3 separate regions of the Homo sapiens genome follow, and all the other regions are linked to region 2. Evidence: fine-mapped expression QTL. A gene starts in region 2. Each other region holds a variant in brackets. All regions are shown on one strand. Distances are from middle to middle. Region 1 overlaps VDR (vitamin D receptor). Region 2 holds the start of VDR (vitamin D receptor). Region 3 overlaps VDR (vitamin D receptor).

Evidence for each region.
Region 1: its variant is fine-mapped to the expression of VDR in nasal epithelium (TOPMed, PIP above 0.99).
Region 3: its variant is fine-mapped to the expression of VDR in whole blood (TOPMed, PIP 0.96).

What each region holds. Positions count from the first base shown.
Region 1 is chr12:47,859,045-47,867,222 of GRCh38, forward strand. It overlaps VDR (vitamin D receptor), which reads right to left. Exons shown (of 10, transcript NM_000376.3): 4 at 6,003-6,133. Among named protein-coding and RNA genes, the nearest start is that of LINC02354, 34 kb to the left of the region's middle. The variant T/C (reference allele first, on the strand shown) is at 4,939.
Region 2 is chr12:47,901,302-47,909,479 of GRCh38, forward strand. It overlaps VDR (vitamin D receptor), which reads right to left and starts at 3,693. Exons shown (of 10, transcript NM_000376.3): 1 at 3,654-3,693. RefSeq lists an enhancer at 2,103-2,302 and a silencer at 3,686-3,815.
Region 3 is chr12:47,840,421-47,848,598 of GRCh38, forward strand. It overlaps VDR (vitamin D receptor), which reads right to left. Exons shown (of 10, transcript NM_000376.3): 8 at 6,237-6,388; 9 at 5,915-6,031; 10 at 1,117-4,585. The coding sequence ends at 4,326. Among named protein-coding and RNA genes, the nearest start is that of LINC02354, 15 kb to the left of the region's middle. RefSeq lists enhancers at 2,789-3,362, 3,363-3,935, 5,460-5,961. The variant G/T (reference allele first, on the strand shown) is at 4,018.

The sequences.
Region 1 (8,178 bases), 42 kb before region 2:
CCCACAGTGGGTGTCTGCACAGACCCTACCAGGTCAGGCAGGGTGGGAGAGGAAGGGGCAGGGAGCATCCAGGGAAGGCAATGGGGGTAAGCCCTCGCTTGGGGAGCCCAAGATTAGGTGTCTTGTCTTTCCTGCTCACCTGGGGACCAGAGTTAGGGAGACCTGTTTCTGCCAGCCACACCATGGTGTCTACAGGCACGTAGCTCAGCCTGACTGGACTTTGCTAACTTTCCAGTGATTCTGTGATGCCATTCTCCTGCCCAGATACTTTTCTCGGCCCCTACTGATGACCACGTCCAAACTAAAGTTGGCCTCTTCCTAACTTTCAGACTTCATGTCTTAGTGCTTCTGGACACAGCCTCTGTTCTGGGCATGCTGGCATTGCTGCTGGCCTGGGAACATGACCTGCTCATGCTCGCCCCTGCATTTCCAGTTGTGCTAGGTGCCCGTCCAGCTGGGTTTTCTCTCCCCCAAACCTGTATGAGTTCTACCAGTTCTTCAGTGCCTACATCATAGCCATCTTTTTCCATGAAGCATTTCTTGATTGCCCTGATCTGCATCAAGCCTTGTTTTTTTCTGCTGAGCCTCATTTCCTATGCCTGCTACATATTTAGTCTTTCCCACACACATTGACACCCAATTATCTTCTGCTCTGTAAGACTCATGGTTAGCACAGTTTTCAATTCATTACCTATAGACGGAGCCCAAGAAGTTCAAGGTCTCTTTCTCTAGATTACAAGTTACTTAAGGGCAGGGTCCATGTCTTACAATTCTTTCTTTTCTCTCCCTTCCTTTCCCTTCCTTCCTTCCTTCCTTCCTTCTTTCCTTCCTTCCTTCCTTCCTTCCTTCCTTCCTTCCTTCCTTCCTTCCTTCTTTCTTTTTCTTTCTTTCTTTCTTTCTTTCTTTCTTTCTTTCTTTCTTTCTTTCTTTCTTTCTTTCACAGACTCTCGCTCTATTATCCAGGCTGGAGTGCAGTGGCACCACCTCGGCTCACTGCAACCTCCACCTCCCGGGTTCTAAGCGATTCTCCTGCCTCAGGCTACAGAGTACCTGGGCTTATAGGCACATGCCACCATGCCTGGCCAATTTTTTTGTATTTTTAGTAGAGATGGGGTTTCACCATGTTGGCCAGGCTGGTCTCAAACTCCTGACCTCAGGTGATCTGCCCGCCTTGGCCTCCCAAAGTGCTGGGATTACAGGCGTGAGCTACCATGCCCGGCCTTTGTCTTACAATTCTTATATTTCCCCCATAAAGGCTAGACCGGAGGGGCTACCTGGCCGTGGTGTCTGCTCAATAGTCTGACACCAAATATCAAATGCATCCACACAGATTACACCAACTGTGTGCAAATCATTTTCCTGGTTCAGGAAAGGCTAGTGAGTACTCTAGTGCTGCTTGTCTCCTGCAATGTAGTGAATGGCACCTGGCACACCAGAGAGCTGAGAAAGCTGACCTCTTTTATTGAAACAATTGTTATGGAAAGATTTTCAAGACAGAAAACCTTGTAACGGAACACTTTTAACGTCATATAACCTTTCCCTGATGATTCAGAGGTATCATTCTGAATAATTACTGAACATTGCAGGACAAGGTTACAGCCTCAGAGTTGTCAGAGGCTGTCTGCCCCGCATTGCATGGCTTGGCGTGCTGGGCTTTGGAGTTCTTGGGCTGCTTTTCTTGCTTCCAGTGTCCACCTCCCTGTTAAACTATGCGTTGTCTTCTTATTGGTGTCTGCCTCTGGATGTGTGCCTTTCTCCCCCTTAAGACTTACTTCTGATCTCTTGGGAGCTAGAAGTTCTGGTGATCAAGTTTGATGTAATAAAAAGAAAATATTCGTAATGCTGGATGGCACATAAAGAGTTTTTCTATCTATAAGGCACTATTCTGAGAGCCTTTTGTATATTAACTCATATATTTAGCCCTCATGACAACCCTTTAAGGCAGGTGCTGTTGTTATTCCCATTTAGCAGATGAGGGAGCTGAGGCCCAGAGAGGCTTTCTACCTTTCTCAAAGTCACACAGCTAACAGTGGTGAAACCAGCATTTAGACCTGGGCAGTCTGGTTCTGGAGTGGAAGGTCATAACCACTAGCCTCTACTGTGTCTGATTACATCTGGTTATAAGCGGACTTTGGCTTTCAGCCATGGAGTTTTGACAGGCATTGTGTTCCAATCCATCTGAAGAGTGTGAAAATAAAATTAAGTCACAAAGCTTGTAAATTACCCACTTTAAAGAGACAAAGAAAGTTCAAGTTTAACCCTATAACATGATTCCTCCCAGTCACTTGCATCAAATAGCAACCTCCATCTTCTATGGAGGTAACAGAGGAAGAAATGCTGAGATCTACCAGTTTCACACAGGCCCAATCCATGAGCCTTCTGCAAGGCAACATTGCTTGAGGACTGAATAAGTCTAAAGTCTTTCACATATGCAAATGCACTGTGATTTACGAAATAATTTGTTTAAAGATCTTGTTAATTTCATGGGAAATTTCTTATCATTTTTTCAATGGATTGAACCTAAGATGTCATTACTATCATATAGGAAGACACTATATGATATATGAAGCCATTGACCTAGAATAAGAGTAAACAGGTTCTGAAAGAGTGTTGGGCTGTCTGGTGATCAGGCGTCTAAAGTGCATGAGTTTTGGCATGTGGACTTTGTAAAACCTACATGGCTGCTCAGAAGCTTTTTTTGACTTCATTTTAAGCTCCTTGCTGAGTGTGAAATAATTTTGCGCAAGTTATTCCCATGCAAGACATGTTCTCTCCTTAACGAAGCCAAGATCTGCAACATAAACAATTTGAAAACATTTCAAGATGCCAAGGATGGGCTAAGAACAACCACAGGAAGAGGACATAAAATGTTTCCAAATGAACGGCACAGACATGATCAGGTTTGGGAGAATCTTACTGATCTATAGACCTGTGGAAGATATACAGAGAGAAAGAAGCATAATGAGGAGCTAATATTCATTGATTCCACACATTTATTGAGCACCTACTATGTGCCAGGTACTTTACTAACACCAGGGAGAAAAGACATACATCTGTAAAAACATCAAACAAGTTACCACAATGTGTGGTTCTGTGCAGGACAGGTAATAGTATAAGCAAAAAGCAAGAACTCAGTTATAAAATTTCTTGGGTTCCCAGGGTATAAAGTCAACTAAGAATGGAAAAGAGAGAAAATGAGTCTTTGGTGGGACCAAGCTCTCTTCAATCCATCTCTTAGAGCATGTGAAAGTGCCTGGAAATGCACAATGGAGTGAGCTCCGACCCACTGGGGCCACGAGAGGCTGCCTCGGGTGTGGCCCACAAGCCTGCCCTTTGGAAGCAGAAAGACCTAGATTAGAATGAATGCTGATACCATCATCTTATTAGCTGAGAGCCATGATATTTTAATTCCTCTGAGCTTCCTCAGCTATTGAAAAAATAAAAGTATTTACGTATTTAGGGAGTGTTGTGAGAATTTCAGAAGAAAATGCATGTGCTTGATGTGCTATCTGACACACAGTAGTTGGTCAATACACAGGGTTTCTGTCCTCATCCTTTCCCTTCCTGTGCCTCTTCTATGGAAGGCCCACCTCCTTGCTCGGACAGCAGGAGCCTGGGCTTTTAGCTTTCTTCCTGTGGTTTTACAAATATTGAGACACTCAATTGTCTCTGGGATGCTATGCCTTGGGGACAAAACCCAGCCCAGATAAGAAATGTGCAGCTCTCCCAGGGTTCTGAGGCCGGGGGACTTCACACTGGTGAGGCCTCCTGAAGCTGGACTAACCTGAGGCTGGGAATGTCTCTTCCTGGACAGTCTTCCCTTCAGGAAAGTAAAAAGCATCAGGACGTTTCTATTTTAACTGGATCCCCGCTCCACCAGCCCATCTAGAACTGAGTACTGCTCCCTGCACTGGGATGAGGAGGGTGGTGTGGCGAGAAGCTACCTTGGGCATACAGCAGGATGGGGACACAGGACTCCACAGGAGAGAATTAGGCTGGGGTGGGCGTGGCTGAGGGATGGGGTGGACATCGCTTCTGGGCTGCTGGGTTCCCACCACGTGGTAGGGTGCTCCTGGGCAGGGCCCCCTGATTTACCCCAGGCTGGTGCTGCTCTTCACCATGGATGCAGCGCTGTTTATGGGGACCAGGAGGCAGGTAGGAGGGGACATGAAGTCTGATTCTAGTCCCAGCTTGGCCACCAACTTGCTTTCTGACCCCAGACCTGAGGTCTTTACCTCTCTGAGTCTCAGATGTTCTTTCTATTTTAAGTCAGTAAGACATCCTCTTCCTCCTGAGGTAGGAGAGGGGCCTCTTGGGCATCAGTGAGCTTAGTCCTGAGGGGAACTCCTGTGGCAGTGCCTTACGAACCACTGCAGTGGAACCTCGTGCCAGTCTTGGTTAGCTGGAGCTTTAGAAACCGGACTCCCTGCTTTGCAGAGGCTGTCTTCTCTGCGGAGATGGGACTGTGCTGAGCACACCTTGTTGGTGCCCACCCTAACGCCTCACCCTGAGCAGGGCCCACTGAGAATGTGTGTGAAGCCTCTTAAGGCACCCGGGCCTCCAGCCTCCACTTCTTATTCTCTCCAGGATAAACACAGGAGCCAGGGCGTGGCAGGGACTAGGGTAGGAGCGACCAGCGTGCCCAGGCCTGCACCCTGTGATGGTGTGGAGAAACCACAGCCCTGGAAACACCTTTCAGGGCTGCCAGTGTTGGCTGGGGAGCCGTCAGATCAGGAGGGAGGAGTCATGACCCACAGAAGAGAAGCCTAGGTCAAGGCCCAAAGAGGAAGCCCAGGGTCAGGGCCTCAGCTCTGCCTCTGTGTCCCAACAACAGATAATTTTTTTCCCATTAACGGAGAAATTTGCTATCCTCTAAGCCCTGTTCTGTGACTTATCCTCTGTCCCTGACACATCTTCCTGTTACCTGACCTCTCCCCA[T/C]CCCCAACCACTCCAAACGGTCCCATAGCCAGGAGGGTCCGCATCTGAGCAACATCCCCACCCCGACTCCGACTCCGATTCCTCAGACCCACAGCTAGGAGGGCCTGGGTTCTGTCCTAGGGCCGGGTGGGGGTCTGGATGCAGATGGCAGACAGGAGTGAGCAAGAGAAGGAGAAAAAGGAATGAGTGTACAGAGAGCACCCATGCCCAGCTGGCCTTGCTCCAGCCCAGAGAGGGCCAGGCTGGCCCCTCCCAGCATCTACTGAATTCAATGCCTACTCTAGTTACCAAATAACTGTCCTAGAGCTCTGATGCAAAGTTCAAGTGTTGTTTTCAGTGATGGGTCAAAATATCCATGTAAATATGCCATGTTGGTCTTCTCCAACCCCAGAGAGGGACAGGAAGTCCTATAGAATCACTCCTCTTTCTCCATCTGGATTCAGAGGGTCGTCCTAGAACCCAGTGCTTCCCCTGGCAGACTCTTTCCTCCTGGTCTCTCCCTGGCACAAGCCCTCAGATCTGCTCAAGGCGCCAGAGAGGCTGGGAGGCTGGGGTGGGACAGAACGTGGATGCCAACTATGCTCTGAATACTAATTCTCCCCATCACTCCTGCCCTTCCTAACCCACATCAGCCCTCTCTTCCCAAGCCCATAGAACCTGGGGGTCCTTGAACCTCATTCTTCCCTCTAGGTCCGAGTAACAGGGAGCTGTGAAAAAAGAATGACATCCTGGAGGAAGACCCTGACCCAGGAGTAGAAGGGACTCTTGAAGGCAGTGTCCGGCCTCTCCTTCCTCTCAGGCCCCACTCTGGAGGGACCCTTCCAGGGCCTCTGACACCAACACACAGATCCTCAAGAGGTGCACAGGGCCGCTGAGTGCATCTGACCCTGGACTTCCAGCTGCCCTGTCACCAGCTGCTGGTCCCACTGAGGCCCTGGCCCCAGATGCTGGCAGCTACAGAGGAAGGGCAGGCAGACCCTCTGCCCAAACTTGCAGGAGAGTGGCCAAGGCCTTTCCCTGACTCCACTTCAGGCCCAAACCCTGCCCAGCCCCTGGACACTCACACTCCTTCATCATGCCGATGTCCACACAGCGTTTGAGCCGGCAGGCCTGGCAGTGGCGTCGGTTGTCCTTGGTGATGCGGCAGTCCCCGTTGAAGGGGCAGGTGAATAGTGCCTTCCGCTTCATGCTTCGCCTGCCGAGAGAGCACACACCCTGCCCTGGGTCACTGAACTTCCGGCTCCTCACCCTGTCATCACGGAGACCTGTCTTCTGGGCCCCCTGGTCTCCATTTCTCCAACAGAAGACATGAGGCCCACCCCAGCTGCCAGTCACTCTCACCTCTAGGCTGGGCACCAAACGATTCCTACTTCTCCTTTCATTGCCTGCCCAGCTCCAATCATGGCTTGTACTTACCTTTTTTCTTTTAATTTTTGTTTCTTTTGGGGGGACAGGGTGTTGCTTTGTAGCCCAGGCTGGAATGCAGTGGCATGATCTCAGCTCACTGCAGGCTGGACCTCCTGGGTTCAAGTAATCCTCCTGCTTCAGCCTCCAGTATAGCTGGGATTACAGGTGCATACCACCATGCCTGGCTAATTTTTTGATTTTTTTGTAAAAATGGGGTCTCACTATGTTGCCCAGGCTAGTCTGGAACTCCTGGGCTGAAGCAATCCTCTATCCTAGGCCTCCCACAGTGCTGGGATTACAGGTGTGAGCCACTGCACTCCGACTCTTTTTTTTTTTTTTTTTTGAGACGGAGTTTTGCTCTGTCACCCAGGCTGGAGTGCAGTGGCTCACTCAGCTCACTGCAAGCTCCACCTCCCGGGTTCACACCATTCTCCTGCCTCAGCCTCCAGAGTAGCTGGGACTACAGGCGCCCGCCACCACTCCTGGCTAATTTTTTTTTGTATTTTTAGTAGAAATGGGGTTTCACCGTGTTAGCCAGGATGGTCTCGATCTCCTGACCTCATGATCCGCCTGCCTTGGCCTCCCAAAGTGCTGGGATTACAGGCGTGAGCCATCGCGCACAGCCACGCCCCGACTCTTATACTTATTTTACAGTACTCTGTTCCCCTTCCCATTTTAAAAAATTAAACAGGAAATAACAAAAGTGCATTTCCCTAGAAAAAACCCTTTTTTTTTTGAGATGGAGTCTCGCTCTGTCGCCCAGGCTGGAGTGCAGTGTTGCGATCTCAGCTCACTGCAAGCTCCACCTCCTGGGTTCATGCCGTTCTCCTGCCTCAGCCTCCCGAGTAGCTGGGACTACAGGCGCCCACCACCGCACCCGGCTAATTCTTTGTATTTTCAGTAGAGACGGGGTTTCACTGTGGTCTCGATCTCCTGACCTCATGATCCGCCTGCCTCGGCCTCCCAAAGTGCTGGGATTACAGGCGTAAGCCACTGTGCCTGGCCGAAGAAACCTTTTTAAATATTGAAATCTCCAGAGTAGCCAGCATAATAACATTTAATGAGCCGCTATGAGAAGTAAGGATGCTAGTCTCAGCATGAAGTCTTCTAGATTCTAGAGACCTGTGACTGGAATAGCTCCTGTTCCAGGGATAGATGTGTACATGGAAGGAAGAAAAGGCCCAAACCATAGCTCTAGACATCCCAGAACCTGCCCAGAAAAAGAAGGGGCCAGACAAGCAGGTGGAAATCCTGAGGCCTGGCCTTGGGTTTTTTGAAAGGAAGAGGAAGCAGGAGCTCTGTAGGAACAGAAAACTAGAGCTGGGCACAGTGGCTCAGGCCTGTAATCCTAGCACTTTGAGAGGCTGAGGTGGGCGGATCATCTGAGGTAAGGAGTTTGAGACCAGCCTGGCCAACATGCCAAAACTCCGTCTCTACTAAAAATACAAAAATTAGTTGGCCATGATGGTGCATGCCTGTAGTCCCAGCTACTTGGGGGCTGGGAGCTGAGGCAGGAGAGTCGTTTGAACCCAGGAGGTAGAGGTTGCAGTAGGCCAAGATCATGCCACTGCACTCCAGCCTGGGCAACAGAGCAAGACCCTGTCTCAAAAAACAAAACAAAACAAAACAAAAAAAACCCAGAAAACTACTGAAGTGTTCTTAGCTAGAAAGGTGGCACCCTTGAGGCTGGGTGTGGTGGCTCAGGCCTGTAATCCCAGCACTTTGAGAGGCCGAGGTGGGTGGATCATGAGGTCAGGAGTTTGAGACCAGCCTGACCAACATAGTGAAACCCCATCTCTACTAAAAATACAAAAATTAGCCGGGCACGGTGGC
Region 2 (8,178 bases):
TCTGGACCATGAGGACCCAGGACCCAGAAGGCAGGACAGTTTCTCTTCCACATGTCGCCACAGCGGGATGCAGGCACTGCCATCAACGCCTGTCACTTGGATTGAGCAAGAACAGCCTCTCCCCACCCTGGACCATTTCCCCAATAGTCAGACCAGACCAAAGAGGCAAACTCTAGTGTCTTTGGGAACTGACTCTGTCTCCTGCAATGCAGCTTCTCCCTGGCTTTGGCCTCCACTTTGCTTTTCATTTCCCCGGAACCTGATTATAGGTGACCTATGTCCTTTATCAGAGTGGGCGAGGTTTGCCTACCCTTGCCTTCCTGGCTGCTTACCTGCTTTACAGCCAGACTTTCTGTGGGATAGTGTGGTCCCCAGAGGTCTGGGAAGCTGGATGAGCAAAATGTGGAGGCTGTAGATATGGAGGAAGAGGGAAGAGGAAACGTGAGGCCCAGTCTTGGCTCCACTATGAACCCCAATTTCCCCAGGGGAAGCTGAAGAGGAGTTGGCAGACCTTCCTGTCCCTGTCTGAGGTTGGGGTGGGGCAGGAAAACCAAAGGTGAGGCCAGTCACAAGTCAAGGGTGAAGGGAAGTCACACGAGTGGTGGGCTGGGTCCCAGGACAGGGTGGCCGGGAGCAGTGCCGCCCCAGGGAAAAGACGAGAATTGGCTGATAACACCAGGGAGCAGGCTAGGGTGTCGGGGGCTGTCCTCAGAATTAAGCTACCCCTGTTTTCCCTTGAGCATTAAGCCTCCCCCAACCTTATCATCCCCTCATCACTGCTGTGACCTCTGCTGAGTTTGGAGTGATGATCACTAGGGTGATTAATATTCCATTTTTCCCTGGAAAGTTTGGGTTTATGTCCATTGTCCTGGTATAACCATGCATGGCATCCCCTTTCACTCTCAGAAGTATCCCAGTTTGCAAGATACATTACACAGGCACTCTTTCTAGCATATCTAGGAGGGCACTGACACAGGAAAAGGTTAGGGACAAATCAGAGGGAAGCAAAATGACAAGCAAGGCCTTGGTGGCCCAGAGTGGCAGCCAGGCTGGCTTCAGCCCAGCTGGATCCTCTCAGAACTGGACAATAGTGGAGGGAGAGCCTGAGAACTGCTGCCCACCCTGGGGCTCAAACTGTCTTGGAGTCAGGGGCCTGGTCTGGTGGGTTCTGCTTCCTGCTATCCCTCAGAGGGCCTGGAGTCATGCTGGGCACACAAGAGGCTCTTAATCAAATCTGGTCAATTCCTTATTTCCCTCTACCTGCATCCAAAACAGAATTGCAGCAGGGACAAATGGAAGCTGGAGCCCTGTAATTCTTTATTCAGCAACACACCAAATGTCATCTAGGTGGTCCTCCCGTCTCTGGCTCTCTGGCCCCTAGGACCTGACTGCTGCACAGGCAACAGCGAGTTTCTAGCAGAGGTTCCAGATGCCTATTCCAGCCAGGACAGCGGTGCCTCCTTAGGATGTGGGGTAAGGAATGAAACAATGGGAACTCCCTTTCGTGTCTTAGATAACCACCTGATGTAGTAGCCACCTGATGTAGCCCACTCGGTCCCAGGCCTTTCTCCATTCACAGCCTGGGCTTTGGACACCTGCTATCTGTTCTGGGGGTAGAGTGTAGGGGTTCAGGAGGTCCTCTCGGAGCTTCCTCTGGGGCTTAGTTACAAAAGAGATCAGTTTTGAGGTCAAATAGGGGAAGAATACTGAGAAACCATAAACACAAACTATCAGGGCACCCCAAACAGCACCCGACCTTCCATAATGTTTATACAAACAAAGTCTGATGGCCTCTGCCGAAGAGGAGTAAAGGGTTGGGAAGGCTTTCTAACTCTCATTTTTTCCCCTCCTTTCTTACCCCATTTTCTAGTCCCTCCTTTAGCTTGGTAAGGGTCCAAGTCACAGCTGATCAAGACCAGCCAAACCCAAAGCCATGGGACCCAGCCAGAGCATAGACTGTGAATTCCCCAGCTTTTTGCAGTTTGAGTCAGCCCCACAGCTGGATTGGCCTCCCAGGACTCTTCTCAAATAGGTCCAGAGAGGCTGCTGAGTGGGGGCCACGGACTCTGCAGGGAGGGCTACTTCTGTTCAACGATCTCTAGCACCCAAAACAAAAGCCAGGGAGAAATGTGCAGTCTTACTACCTTCTGGTCTGGCTGCATGCCAGCCCTGAGACTGTTTCAGAAAGACTCACAGTTCCCTCCAGCACTTGGACAGGGAAGGGACGGCAGGTCTCTCAACACACAACACTCTTAGTCCATAGAATTGAGGCTCCAATGTTCAGATAACCCATTTCTACCTCAGCAAATCACCCTCACTCCCTAGCCTGAGTTAAAGCCTTCTTTGCCAACACCATGACTTCTCTGGCCCCAGACTTTCCTAATTTCTTTTGCTCACCCCCTTCACTAGCAGAGATGGGCTGCTAATGAGACCACTAGGCAGAAATGGAAGGAAGGGCTGGAAAAGCCTGCAGTGCTGGGATGCACCTCCTTATCCCAGGAGAAAGATGAGATGTAGATTTATCATAAAGCCACTATCCCTTCACGGTCACCTCCTGCTAGAATCATCTCATAGCCATTCCATAAGCACTGCTGTGTTGGGTATCTGAGCCCCTGCCCATGAGGAAGACCACCTTCCAGCAGGGAGCTGGAGCAGAGCTGAACTCTGCCCAGGAGAGCTTCTGCAATGCTCAGAAAATGCCTGCCCAACTGCTTGCCTGGGCTCTGGCCCCTTTGGCTGCAACTGAGCCCAGACAGGAGGCTGACTCACTCACCGCACGCATAGAGGAGGAGGAGGAACAAGAGGAGGAGGAGGAGGAGGAGGAGAAGGAGGAGGAACTGTGAGAAGGGTCTGGGCTTGGAGACCTAAGGCTCCCCCAGCCCAGGCTAGGTCTCAGACTCTGGTCCCTGGGTGAAGAGAAGGAGGGGCAGTTGTACACTGGCCCTGGAGACCACAGGCTGTTCCCTCCTAGATACTTCTGAATCTTCCTCACCACCACCCACAGATCCAGGGCACCTCACTTTTCAAACAGAAACTACTCCTTGAGCCCCTTCCTCATTTAAATGCTTGCCCCTGAGTTCCTCTGAACATCTATTGACAGGCTGTCCTGAAAAAAAATAGGGCCAATTAGGTCTAAACTCATTGGTAGTTCAAAGAAAAGTAAAAAAAAAAAAAAAAAAAAAAAAATTACTTAAAAGACCCAACTCCACCATCACAGGTGACCATACCTGGGCCCTGTAAGACAATAAATAAGGTTACACACCCTCCACTCCAGCAGTTCTGAGCACCATCGACAGCCAATCGCTCCTTTTCTTATTCCTCCACTCCATGCCAAGGCGCCCCGACAGAAGAAGGAAACAAATACTTCTTGTTGCCCAAGTGCTAAGCACTGTGTTAGCGGAGCATTTCTCCTAAGCGCCGAGGATGTCGCTGCTCCCCTCGCCAGCCTGGCACGAACTTCAGCTTTCTCAAACCTCAGTGCCCCTTAGTGTCCCAGCCTCATGGCACGACAGCCCGGACCTCAGTAGCCAAGTTTACCGCTGAGACTTAGACTCTAATGCTCGCAGCCGGGCGCTCAGGCCCCGGTATCCCAGACGCCCCGACCCCGAGTCCCTATCCTGAGACCCCCTTTCCCGCTGCTCCCGGGTTCGCACCTGGTCCGGCCGGCGGGTGGACAAGCTGTTCCGCGCTCCCGGCGCACACGGCTCCGCTGCCGCCTTTTGACAAGCAGAGACAGCCCAGCACCTGGCCCCGCCTCTCGGTCAGGCCCCGCCCCGGCCCCGCCCCGCCCCTCCGCCCCGCCCACAGGTCCAGTCCTCTCTTGCCAGGAGCTCCGTTGGCGCTGCAACCATCTTGACTTGGAATCAACCACCCTATAGGCCACGCTGTAGCCTTAGATACTCTAACTCGTGAAATTTTCATCGACCGTCGTCCATAGGGCAAGGCACGCTTCTGCCCTCTGTGGGACAGAGTTGTCGATGATTATAGGTGCGGATACCCGCTTCAGCCTGTGTTAATCGGGGATGCAGCCCCCCACCCTTCCTGCCGTGGTTCTACCCAGCCTGCTGCGGACGCCTGAGCCAGGTGCGTCACCCCCACCTGGGCTGACCAGGCCAGGACTTCGTCGTCCGCGGGACGCTGGGGGGCGCCTGCCGACTGGCACCGGCGGCTAGCTCCGCACGAATGGGAAATCCCGGGCTCCGCTCGCCAACCTGTTACTGCTGCAGAACGCCAGGAAGCTCAGCCTGATCCCACAGATTAGGGTAAAATATCCCGGGGGGCCGAAGTGGAAACCGGAGTTGCGTCATTGCTCCCACCCGATATCACCTTGGCAGCGACCGCGGCTGACCACGTTCCCGGCCTGTCGCGAATCTCACCCAAGGGAGCTGAGTCTCAGCTTCCCTGGTCCCTGGTCCCGAGTTCCGCCTTCCCCCCCCGCCCCGTGGCATCGGCGTGAGGGGAAAAGATAAAGACTACCTCCTGAGACCTGGAATTGTGGATGGCTGCGGAAAACTCACCACAGGAAATTTTGGCTTAAAGTTATTCTCTGCTTCCCTTGACTGTGTGATAGGCACCGCTCTATCTGCTAGAGGACAGGTGAAAAAGATGGGGTTCCCTCTTCTTAGAACTCACTGTGCAGTGGGAGAATGTATAAATAAATAGTAATTACAACATAATCTTCTGGAATAGAAATGCTCACAAAATCATCCAGCAGTCGATGACCTCCTTTAGCCAGGGAAGATATTGCTATTCGCCTCTTACAGAGGAGGAAACCATGGCTCAGAGGGACAAGGTGAAAGGGTGGGAAATTGAGGCATAGAAAGTTTAAGTGATATGCCCAACATGACTCAGCTAATCAATGAAGGACTAGTGCTAGAGCCCAGCAAATCTGCTGGTGCAATGGTCTCTGAACCATTTCTGAGACAGCTATGCTGGACTACATCATAACCAGCCCCTCACAACTCAATAATAGGGTTAAAAGAAATAGACTGAGATTAAATAGAAGGAAGAACCTTCCAACAGTGAAGTTTGTTAAGCACTGCAACAGTTCATTATGGAGGTATCATGGCAACTTTCTGGGAAGACTTAAACAAAAGACAGAAGAGAGGCATAGCGTTTGATTGAACTTGGGAATGGACCATTTATTCTGAGAAACAGATGAAGTGCCCCTTTAGAGGTCCTGCCAGTCTGATGGATGGATTCTCTACCTGTAATGAAAGTAATAGGAAGGATCCCCTTGCCCAAAGCATCGTGGGAAAGCTAGCGGTGATTCTTGTGGGAAGAAAAGCATAAGAGGAAATTTCCAACCACCAATACCTTGGGACATTCTCTGCAAGTCCCATGAGCCTCTGAAAGAGGTTGAACACTCAGAAGTCACTTTTGTGGTGCTTGACTGGCCTGACATCTTGCAAATAAACCTTATCAAAAGATGGTGGAAGATGCGTACTAAGTATTCCGTAGTAACTGAGAGTTAGTCTTTTTTCACAGCCTTTGTTGGAGGAGAGGTACTTGTAATTCACATGTGTAAACTGCTTTATAATTTAAAAATTCTTTGGAATATCTTACTTGATCTTTATCATAGCCTTTTCAGACATGAAGAGTAAAAAATACCGTTCCATTGTACAACTGATGTGCAGAGTTGTCAAGGTTTCTACAGCTGAGGAGTGTCAGAGCTACTGGACCCAGATCTTCTCTCTGCACATCCCACTGTTTCATGCTGCCTCTAAAAAACAAAAAAAAAATTTCCATGCATGCACTTTTCACAGAGTTGAAGAACTCAGAGGTTCTGCGTTTGGCAGATGGGCAAGATTATAGATGTCATCACGGTCCCCAGCACATGCCGTCATCAGCCCCGTCACCTTGTCTGTAACCATGTTCTTCCCATATTCCCCCAATACCTGAACTGTTCTCTCTCATCCACCTCTCCAGACCCTCTCCTCTTTCAGGTCCTGCCTATTCCATCAGGCTTTTCCAACATCTCCAGGAAAGGAACTGTCAATTCTCTGGTCTTTGTAGCGCATGCATTTTCTATATTGCATGGTTTGGCACCTGCTAATGAACCATCTTGTATTTACATTGAACAAAGATAGATTTTTTTTTGCCTGTTTTATTCTTAGAAGGAAGGTTATTTTGTGAAAGTAGAAAAGCAACATCATATGAGATTCACTTCTCCTGTGTTCTGTTGTAATCCCTAATTGTCTCTGGACCCTACTTCTCCCTAGCCAGGTACACAACTGGAAAGGGAGGTTGCTGTCCCACACCGTGTTCTCTTGATGCCTCGATGACAAGCACCATTCCTGCACTACAGAGTTAATAGTTTTAAATTCCCCTATCTTGACTTCTCCATAAACCAGGTACCAGAACCTCTGCAGAAGACATTAATTTTTCTTTTCCCTGAAGTTAACATTTCTCATATTCTCACTTATCCCTGGGATGGGTAGTGGTCTTTATTGGGATGTACAGATTGTTTTTTGTCAGTACTCATCTCTGCCAAATTACATCAGGGAATATCTCGTAAGCACTTGCTTGGTTAATATTAGCCAAGTCTGGTGGTGTGCTAGATACTCTGCTATAGTGCTATAGACTCAAAAATCTATATAGAAACAAAAGAGCCCTTCCCGGTGCATCTGACTTTGATGGAAAGATTCCAGAGGTACTAGGCTGAGGATTTCGTTTCATTCATTTCATTCCTGTGCATTTCATTCCACAGAGTCCAAAGAAAGGCAGGGCCTGGTCTCTTGACCTCTCTGCCAGGCTCCAGGCACCTGGGGATGGCCTGGGCAGTTGTGGCTACAGTCAGGCCACAGGACTGCAGCCTGTCCTCATCTCTGGGCTTCCTTTTTCTGCAGCCTGGCCACTGTCCTCGAGGCTGGCTGATGCTCTCTGCACTTCTTGCTGTGGTGTCAGAGCTAGAGTGGGTCACTTTGTCCCTGTGAGTCTCCCAGAGACCCTGTCCCCATGGACAGAGGTTTTTTGAGCTGTCTAAAGGCTGCTCTGCAGGTAAAAATGTGCCCTTTGAGCTCTCTCTGGAACACTCCCATCTGACTGTTTGTTTTTCCCTTTTTTAGGGCCATTTTCCCCCCTTAAATATTTTATGGTTATGAGCACGGTAGGACTGAAGAGAAGCCTCTCTTCAGTAAACACCCAGAGAACATTCTGAGAGACATGAGCGTGGAGTTAGAAAGACAGAAGGGACCAGGCCATCTTTTCAGTTTGTTCCCTTGTTTTAGAGATTTTTTAAAAAACACACGTTAAGTTCAGAAAGATTAATTCATTTATATTTCCTAACCCAAGTTAAGACAAAAAGGATCAGGGATGACTCTCCTTATTTATGTTCCAGATGGTAAAAATAGAATGAATAAATGTAAGAAGCTGTAGCAATGAAAGCAAACCAAGGGGTCTTCCCAGGACAGTATTTTTCAAAATTTTAACTGCAACCCATAATAAGAAATAAGTTTTTACTGTGACCTAGTTTACTCAGGAATATATATAAGTTCCTGATACAAAAGATGTTCTACAATGTTTTCTATTATTTTCTCTATCCTCTTTTCCTTCCTTCCTCCCTCCCTCCTTCCCTCTTTCATTCCTTTTTCTTCCTTTCTCTCTTTCTTTCTTCCTTCCTTCCTGCCTTCCTTCCTTTCTTTCTTTCCTTGCTTTTCCCTTCCTTCCTTCCTTCCTTTCCTTTCTTTTCCTTCCTTCTTTCCTTCCTTCCTTTCCTTTTGGGATCCACCAAATTTATTTCACAGCCCATTAATGGGTTGTGACCCAAAATACAGTATTAAAAATCCTACCCTACACAGTGGCTCAGGCCTGTAATCCCAGTACTTTAGGAAGTTGAGGTGGAAGGATTACTTTGAGGCCAGGAGTTTGAGACCAGCCTGGACAACATAGTGAGACCCTATCTCTACAAAAAATTTAAAAATTATCCAGGCATTGTGGTGTGCGCTTGTAGTCCAAGCTGCTTGAGAGGCTGAAGTGGGAGGATCGCTTGAGCCTAGGAGGTCAAGGCTGCAGTGAGCTATGATCATGCCACTATGCTTGAGGCCTGGGAGGCAGAGTGAGACCCTGTCTCAAAAAAAAAAAAAAAAAAAAATCCTGCCCTAGATCATGGGCTAGGCGGACTTTATTGTTTGAGTAGCCAACTGACAGAAGACTCCATCCAGGGAGTTGATGGAATCT
Region 3 (8,178 bases), 61 kb before region 2:
CAAATACTGGAACTGTGGCTTGTGCGGTTGACAAGCTAGATGTTTACCTTTATTTCATTTAAATACTCACATGTAGCTAGTGGCTACTGGATTGAACAGTGTAGGCATAGAACCAAAGCTTGGAATATGAAAACTTGAAAACACTTGATCCTAATTATGCAACCTTCCTGGGGTATATTCCTCTTGGTTTACCTGGAAAAGCGCATTATAACACAGCCTTGGAAATTTTGTGTTCTTCTAGGTCAGCTATAAAAATGCTACATAAGATCCTTCTAACAGTGTATCAGAACTCCATTCTCCACATTTCTCCAGCCAGAGACATGCCCATTTATGCAGCTGTTGATTTCCTTTCTCTAAGTCCCTTCATGTTTCACAAAATAACCCTCAAGTTCTAACCCCAATTCCCCTAAGTCCATCTCATCCCACTGAAACACATTTTAGCCTTTGGTTTGAAATATTTTCAGATGTTTCTGAAAAATTAGAGTGAATCACATCCCCAGGCCAACTTATCCTCAATCAATACATTAGCTGGCATGATTTCCTTATTTTCAGATCACAATGCTGTGTTCTTGTTTACTGTGCCTAGCAATGCTACCCTTCATCATAAACCCCACTTCCTTGGGAAGCAGAATGGAGTGCATCGGCATAAGTTGGGCCCCTTAGGAGTCCTGTTTCTGCACAGCAGTCATTTGTAATCCTCCAGGTCACTGGCACAGCCGCCATCTCTAATGGCAGACACAGTTTTGCCAGTAGCTGTTTGGTTTTCATTTTTGAGGGTCTCACGTAGGTGTCATATATTGACTGCACACTTCCTGGGAGTAGAGCACAGTTTGGTCCAGCACCTCTAATTTTCCTGGCTCAGGGCCTGCTTTAGGAATGGGAACCTCTTTTATCTCCTCTCTAGGAGAGAGCTAGCAAGACCATCAGTCGTCTGTCAGGTCCCCCAACTCAATAGGAAGCAGGACAATGTAGCAGTTAATTTGTGGCTTCTGAACCTAGCTGCTGAAGGTTCAAATCCCATCCCTTGCTAGTGTGGCATTGCTCAAGCTATCCTTTCTGTCAAATGGGGGTAATAATGATTCATCTCCCATAAGGTCCTTATAAGGATAAGGCAAATTGGTTTGCATAAAGCATTTATTTACAGCAGTACTTGCAACAAAGTAAGTGCTATATAAGTATGAGCCATTTTTATTACCATAAGCAAAGCTTTCTACATTGGTTGACTTGACAAACTTCTGGCAAACTTTTTTTCTCTTTGGAAATCATTCAGCAGGCACTGTTTACATCCTTTCGCTGCCATATCTCTAGCTTTCACTAAATCTGCCACACATTCCTGCCTTCTCTGTTGACCTCGCTTGGATTCTCCTACATGCTTCCAGTTAGCCAGCCAGAGGATTTTCCTGTCTCTGGGAATCTTGTGGAAAATCTTGCATTTTGGGGCACCTTCTCCTTCAGTTATAATGATATACCTTAAAAGTTTTACATTTACAAATGTCTATTTCACACTCTCATTCTAAAGTAGAATCGATGATGACCTTTTCTCCCCGTTCAGCCCCATAAAAACTCATTTTCCCCTCTTTTCTTTTCCTCCCAGCTCCTAGACTTCCTTTGGAGGAGTGGCCTAGGTGGTGGGGCCCAGGGCTGAGTAACTGATATTTCCAGGAGTTCCCCGAAGAAGGCAGGGCCAGAGGGAGAGCTGGGAAGGTGGTGACATTACAAAGACAAATGCATGTTATAGATGAGGCAACAGCATTATCCAAGGCTGAGGTGGAGAGCCCAGCAGGCCAGGGCCACATCGTGGTGGGGTAGGGTCTGATTCACATTGAGGCAGAGGTGAGTCTCCTTCCTTCTCCTTCTGATGGGTTGGTGGAGTTACAAGCCAGGGAAGGAAGGAAAGGGTCCCAGATCCAGACTTGCTCTTTCTGAAATCCAGGGCTTCCCCCAGGGACTGGGTCAGCCACCTGGGGAATGAGAGTGGGGGTCTGAGCTCAAACATGGTGTAGTGAAAAGGACACCGGACCATGACTCCAAAATCTGGTCCTGTCCTGGTCCACTTCTAAGACGGAGTTTCGCTCTTGTTGTCCAGGTTGGAGAGTAACGGCACGATCTCAGCTCACTGCAACCTCCACCTCCTGGGTTCAATTCTTCTGCCTCAGCCTCCTGAGTAGCTGGGATTACAGGCTTGCGCCACCATGCCCGGCTATTTTTTTTTTTTTTTTTTTTGTATTTTTAATAGAGACAGGGTTTCTCCATGTTGGTCAGGTTGGTCTCGAACTCCCGACCTCAGGTGATCCACCTACCTCGACCTCCCAAACTGCTGGGATTACAGGCGTGAGCCACCGCGCCGGGCCTGTCCTGGCCCACTTCTAGCTAGTTATATATGCTTGGGTGAGTCACGCCCTCCTCTGTCAGTTTTCCTGAATGAGGGGATTGACTCGTTTAGCAACTTACAAGTGTTTTCTCCCACTGAAGAGCAAGCTGGACCAATACGTTCTGCAGCTAAAATCAAACAAGGGTCTCTCCCTAGACCCTTGTAAAATAACAACAGCAATAATAATTAATGTACAGAAGTTTCACAATGTAAGTTCTCCCCCCATAAATATCTCCAAATCAGTGGTACCTGCTACCCTGTATATTAGACTATAATACAAATGGAGTCTGAGTCTGAAAACAACTCATATCTAATAAATTTAAGATTAAGCGATATATATGCTATTCTGCAGTAAGGAACGTGGCTTTCAGATGTTTTTCCACCTGAAGAATTCTGAGAGACATGGGGCCAGGTGGACACCAAGGCTCTTGCAGTGTGAAGTCTGATTCCTCTCTGGGTTTTCAGGGAACTACGGATGCAGGTGCAAGGACACAGCTTCCAGGAGTTGGGGCAGTCACGTTCCCACTGACTTTAACATTCCTGGTGACTCAGGGAATGCGGCCGCATTCCCCAAACTCAAGCACTGATCTGAAGAAGCCTCTGTGATCCACCTCGAAGAACGCCTTTCTGTACCGGTCCCGCACACCTACAGCTCACTCTCACAAAGACCCCACCTTGGAGTAAACGGACAGACGCTTCCCACCAGCTGGGCTGGGCTGGCTGCAGAGAGCATGCACTTGAAGTTGTATCACTCCGCCCCTGCCTCACAGGCACCTTTTGACTTTTGGGTGGTGGAGTGAGAATAAGAAGGCACCTTACCCTACATCACGGAACCCCCAAACACTCTCTCTGACTAGCCACCCGAGACTGCCCCGCTCTCCCTTCCCACACTCTGGGGTGCGGCAGCGCTAGCTCTTAGCCCTGTGGGTGAACAGCGGCCTTGCAACCACATTGAGGCGGCAGGGAGATCATGACTCAGCCGCTGGGGTCTGAAAATTCTTCTCCTCCATCCCACCCTGCCAGATGGAGAAGATGCGGCTCACTGCTTCTCCAGACCCTCTCCCCTGGGGAGGGGGTGGGGGAGCAGGCTCTCGGCTACTCTCGGTGATCCGAGGAGGACAGGGAGGGCTGGCTCTCCTGGGCAGGAGGTAAGGCACTGGCAGGGGGAGGACGAGGTCGGCAGGTGCTTTTCTGCAAACTGGGGACAATTCAGTCCTGCTACATGGATCCGTGGAAGGAGGGCTTCCACCTCAACCAACCCCTTAGACCCAGGGCGAGGAACTGTGAGCTTGGTGACAGGGACAGCTGTCATATTCTTCTGTGAGGCTGTTTTTGTCTGTTTTTCCTCCTTGGGTCTCTCAGCAGGTGGGTTCGTGCCTGGTGCTCCAGTGATGGGAAGAAAACCCACCTCACCACAGCTACTGCCCGTGAGAATATAACCAGGGCAATGGGATGTTGGTGGGCACTGAAGGGGGTGGGGTGGGAGCTGTGGGCCGATTATTTATCGTGAGTAGGCAGGAGAGGGAGACCCCACTAGGCGCTGGACAAGCGGGGCCTGCAGTGGGGGGAGGTGCAGGTGTCTCTGTCCCTGAGGAATGGATGCATTTCTCCTGTCTGTTCCCTCAACATCAGTCAGCAGCCACTTA[G/T]GCAGCGGTGGAGGCATCTCTGGGCAAGGCCCTGCCTCCAGCCTCTGCCCTCTGCCCCCACTTGGGTTTCTTTGTCAAACAAACAGCAACTCCTCATGGCTGAGGTCTCAAGGGACCGGGGAAAAGCCCGCAGGAAAGGGGTTAGGTTGGACAGGAGAGAGAATGGGCTGGGTGGATAGGGGAGGTGGCAGAGGAGGGGCTGAACCCCAGACGGGGTGAGGAGGGCTGCTGAGTAGCCGCCAGCCCCGGGCCTGGCACGTGGCCCTGGAGGAGCAGCCCCACCCAGGCACCGCCACAGGCTGTCCTAGTCAGGAGATCTCATTGCCAAACACTTCGAGCACAAGGGGCGTTAGCTTCATGCTGCACTCAGGCTGGAAGGAGAGGCAGCGGTACTGCTTGGAGTGCTCCTCATTGAGGCTGCGCAGGTCGGCTAGCTTCTGGATCATCTTGGCATAGAGCAGGTGGCTGCCCGGGGGCGGGTGGCGGCAGCGGATGTACGTCTGCAGTGTGTTGGACAGGCGGTCCTGGATGGCCTCAATCAGCGCGGCGTCCTGCACCCCAGGACGATCTGTGGGCACGGGGATAGAGAAGAAGGCACAGGAGCTCTCAGCTGGGCCCCTCACTGCTCAATCCCACCACCCCCCACCCACACAGACACTCAACGGCAGCACCCCCTAGGCCACCCCTCTATGACTGCTGACCGGTGATACCACTGCCTGGCCCCAAAGCCCTCCAGTGACTTCTCCGTGCATTTAGGATCCAGACCTAGGTCCTTCCATGGGCGCACCTGGCCCTGTCCCTGCCTGGCCTTGCTCCCTGTCCATGCTCTGTCCATCCCTCAGCGTCCCGATGCGCCATGCTCTCTGGCCACCAGCCTTCACATCTGTGCTCCCTCTGCTTGGAACTCTGCTCTGCTATCTTTGCCAGACTCTTACTGATCCTTTGGATAACAGCTTAAAAGGTCTTCCTCCAAAAGGCCATTCCTGGCAACACTCTACCTCTGTAGCCCAGACCACGTCAGCTTCCCTCCTTCTATTCTACCCTTCTGTAGCATCACTTACTTTATTTTTAAAACTCTTGCCTTGTTAGGAATTAATAATTAAATAACATTTGTTTAATGTTTCCTCCTAAGCTTCATGGGAGAGGAGCCTGTGTCCCATTTGCTGCTGAACCCCAGTACCTAGCATAGTGCCTGGTACCTAATAGGTGCTCAATAAATTGTTGCTAAGTGGATGAATGAATGAGAGAAGGCTGGCTGGGCAGGGGTAGAGGAGCCCATCTCCATTCCTTGAGCCTCCAGTCCAGGAAAGCATCCCTGGGCACAGGCCACTAGCACAGGCTGAGGCAGGGCCGCCCCTCTTTGGACCTCATCACCGACATCATGTCCCCAAGGTCACAATAACTTCCTCTTCGGCCTTTTCTCCCTCTTCTCACCTCTAACCAGCGGAAGAGGTCAAGGGTCACTGCACATTGCCTCCAAAATCAATCAGGTAAACTATATAGGCAGAACCATCTCTCAGGCTCCAAAGTTTTGTACCCTGCCCGCAAGAAACCTCAAATAACAGGAATGTTGAGCCCAGTTCACGCAAGAGCAGAGCCTGAGTATTGGGAATGCGCAGGCCTGTCTGTGGCCCCAGGAACCCTGCTTATCTAGTTCCTCAGAATCCCCCCTACGAATCGCCTGCACACTCTGCAAGGCAGAGCTAAGGGCAGTGAGGGGCACCTCAGCGTCCACACACCACAGGGGCTCTGCAAACCAGCAAAGTAGGTATTTCCTTATCTGTGTCTCCTTTTGCTACGTCTCCCTTCAGGTTGCCCAGCTGGCCCTCAGCAGGTCTTTGTCCTTCATACTCCCCGCTCCCCAGGTCCCTGAGCTCCTCCCTGCCTGGCCCCATACCTGGGGAGACGATGCAGATGGCCATGAGCAGGACATGCTCCTCCTCATGCAAGTTCAGCTTCTTCAGTCCCACCTGGAACTTGATGAGGGGCTCAATCAGCTCCAGGCTGTGTCCGGCTGTGAGAGACAATGGCCAGGTACTGCGGGCAGAGCTGAGGAGCCGCCCACCCACCTCCAACCCCATGGGTCTGACCCTCGCCCTTCTCTCCCTGTTGGTGCCTAACTCCCTCCCATGTATCTGATTGGAGCCAAACCCCAGGACGGGTGGAGCCAGAATCTGGGAGCTGAAAAAGACTCCCCAGGAGGTGGAGTCTAGGCATACCTTTGGTCACGTCACTGACGCGGTACTTGTAGTCTTGGTTGCCACAGGTCCAGGACATGTCGTCCATGGTGAAGGACTCATTGGAGCGCAACATGATGACCTCAATGGCACTTGACTTCAGCAGTACGATCTGGTCCTCAGAGGTGAGGTCTCTGCAGGGGAGGGAGGGAAGGAGGTCAGGTTACCAGTAAACGCCTTCAAGCCACACAAATCAGTTTAGTGCTTTGACAGGTATACACCTGCTGGGCACCAACATGCACCCTGGGTCTTTCATCGAGGAGCTTGCAGGCTGGCTGGAAGGGACAAGAGTGTTCCTTGAGAGAGAACAGTTCAACACTGTGATCATGTGCCAAGGCCAGAAGTGAAGTAGCTCAGTTACTAAGACAAGAAAAACTCAGAGACCAAGCAGCCAGAGCTATGGGGCACAGGAAACGGAGCCCAGGGAAGTTCCCAGCATTGAGGCATGAATATGGTGGTCTGCAAAAGGTAGGGCCATGGTATCTTCAACAACACCCAAGTTTTCTCCTCCTCTCCCTCCTACTGTCCTCCAGTCCTTCTCAGTAGTAAATTCAGCCAACTCTGTCTCTAGGATGTCTCTCAAGCCCGTGATCTTATTCCCACTCCTACCAGGAGTGCCCTGGTTCAGAGCTCCAGCGTCTTTTCCAATAGCCTCTTACAGGAATCCCAGACTTGTGTCTCTCCAGTCTCTCATTCATCTTTCTTACCACTGCTGCAGGTCAATGTCCTCTTGCACTCAGAAATCTTCACTGACTCTCAAACACCCTAGGATCAGGCCCACACTCCCTAACTTGGCTCCAACCTCTCATTCCAACTCCCTTTCCCATGGTAAACTCCACCAACCTTCCATTCTAGCAGCATCATGCCACTCCACATTCAGATGCTGTGTGTTCTCACTGTGCCTTTTTTTTTTCTTGTGACAGGATCTCACTCTGTTGCTGAGGCTGGAGTGCAGTGTTATGATCATAGCATGCTACAGCCTCAAACTCCTGGGCTCAAGTGAGTCTCCCACCTCAGCCTTCCGAATAGCTAAGACTACAAGCATGCGCCACCATGCTCAGCTAATTTCTTTTATTAGTATTTTTAGAGACAGTGTCCTGTTCTGTCACACAAGCTGGAGTGCAACAGAATGATTATGGCTTACTGCAGCCTCAAACTCCTGGGCTCAAGCAGTCCTCCTGCCTCAGCCTCCTAAGTAGCTGGGACTACAGGTGCACACCATCACGCCTAGCTAATTTTTTTTGAGACGGAGTCTCACTTTGTCGCCCAGGCTGGAGTGCAGTGGCGCGATCTCGGCTCACTGCAAGCTTCGCCTCCCAGGTTCACGCCATTCTCCTGCCTCAGCCTCCCGAGTAGCTGGGACTACAGGTGCCCGCCACCATGGCCAGCTAATTTTTTTTTGTATTTTTAGTAGAGACGAGGTTTCACAGTGTTAGCCAGGATGGTCTCGATCTCCTGACCTTGTGATCTGCCTGCCTAGGCTTCCCAAAGTGCTGGGATTACAGGTGTACGCCTAGCTAATTTTTAAATTTTTTTTGTAGGGATGGTGTCTCACTATGTGGCCCAGGCTGGTCTCAAATTCCTGGCCTCAAGTGATCCTCTCATCTTGGCCTCTCAAAGAACCAGGGTTACAGGTGTGAGCCACTGCACCCAGCCATCACCACGCCTTTCAGCATACTACAGCTCCAGCCAGGAATACCCTTCTAATTCTCCATTTTGTTTTTCTGGTCCTGAATCCACTGTGTTTTCCACTGGAGCCCCGCACCTTCTGACTCTTTAGCACAGTTAGGGCCATGTCATTGTGATGCCTTGAACATTGCTGGTGCTCTTATTTTGCCCGTCTCCTCCAGTTCTGCTCTTTACATGCTTGTTTTCTACTCCTTTTTTTTTTTTTTTTTTTTTTTTTTTTTGAGACAGAGTCTTG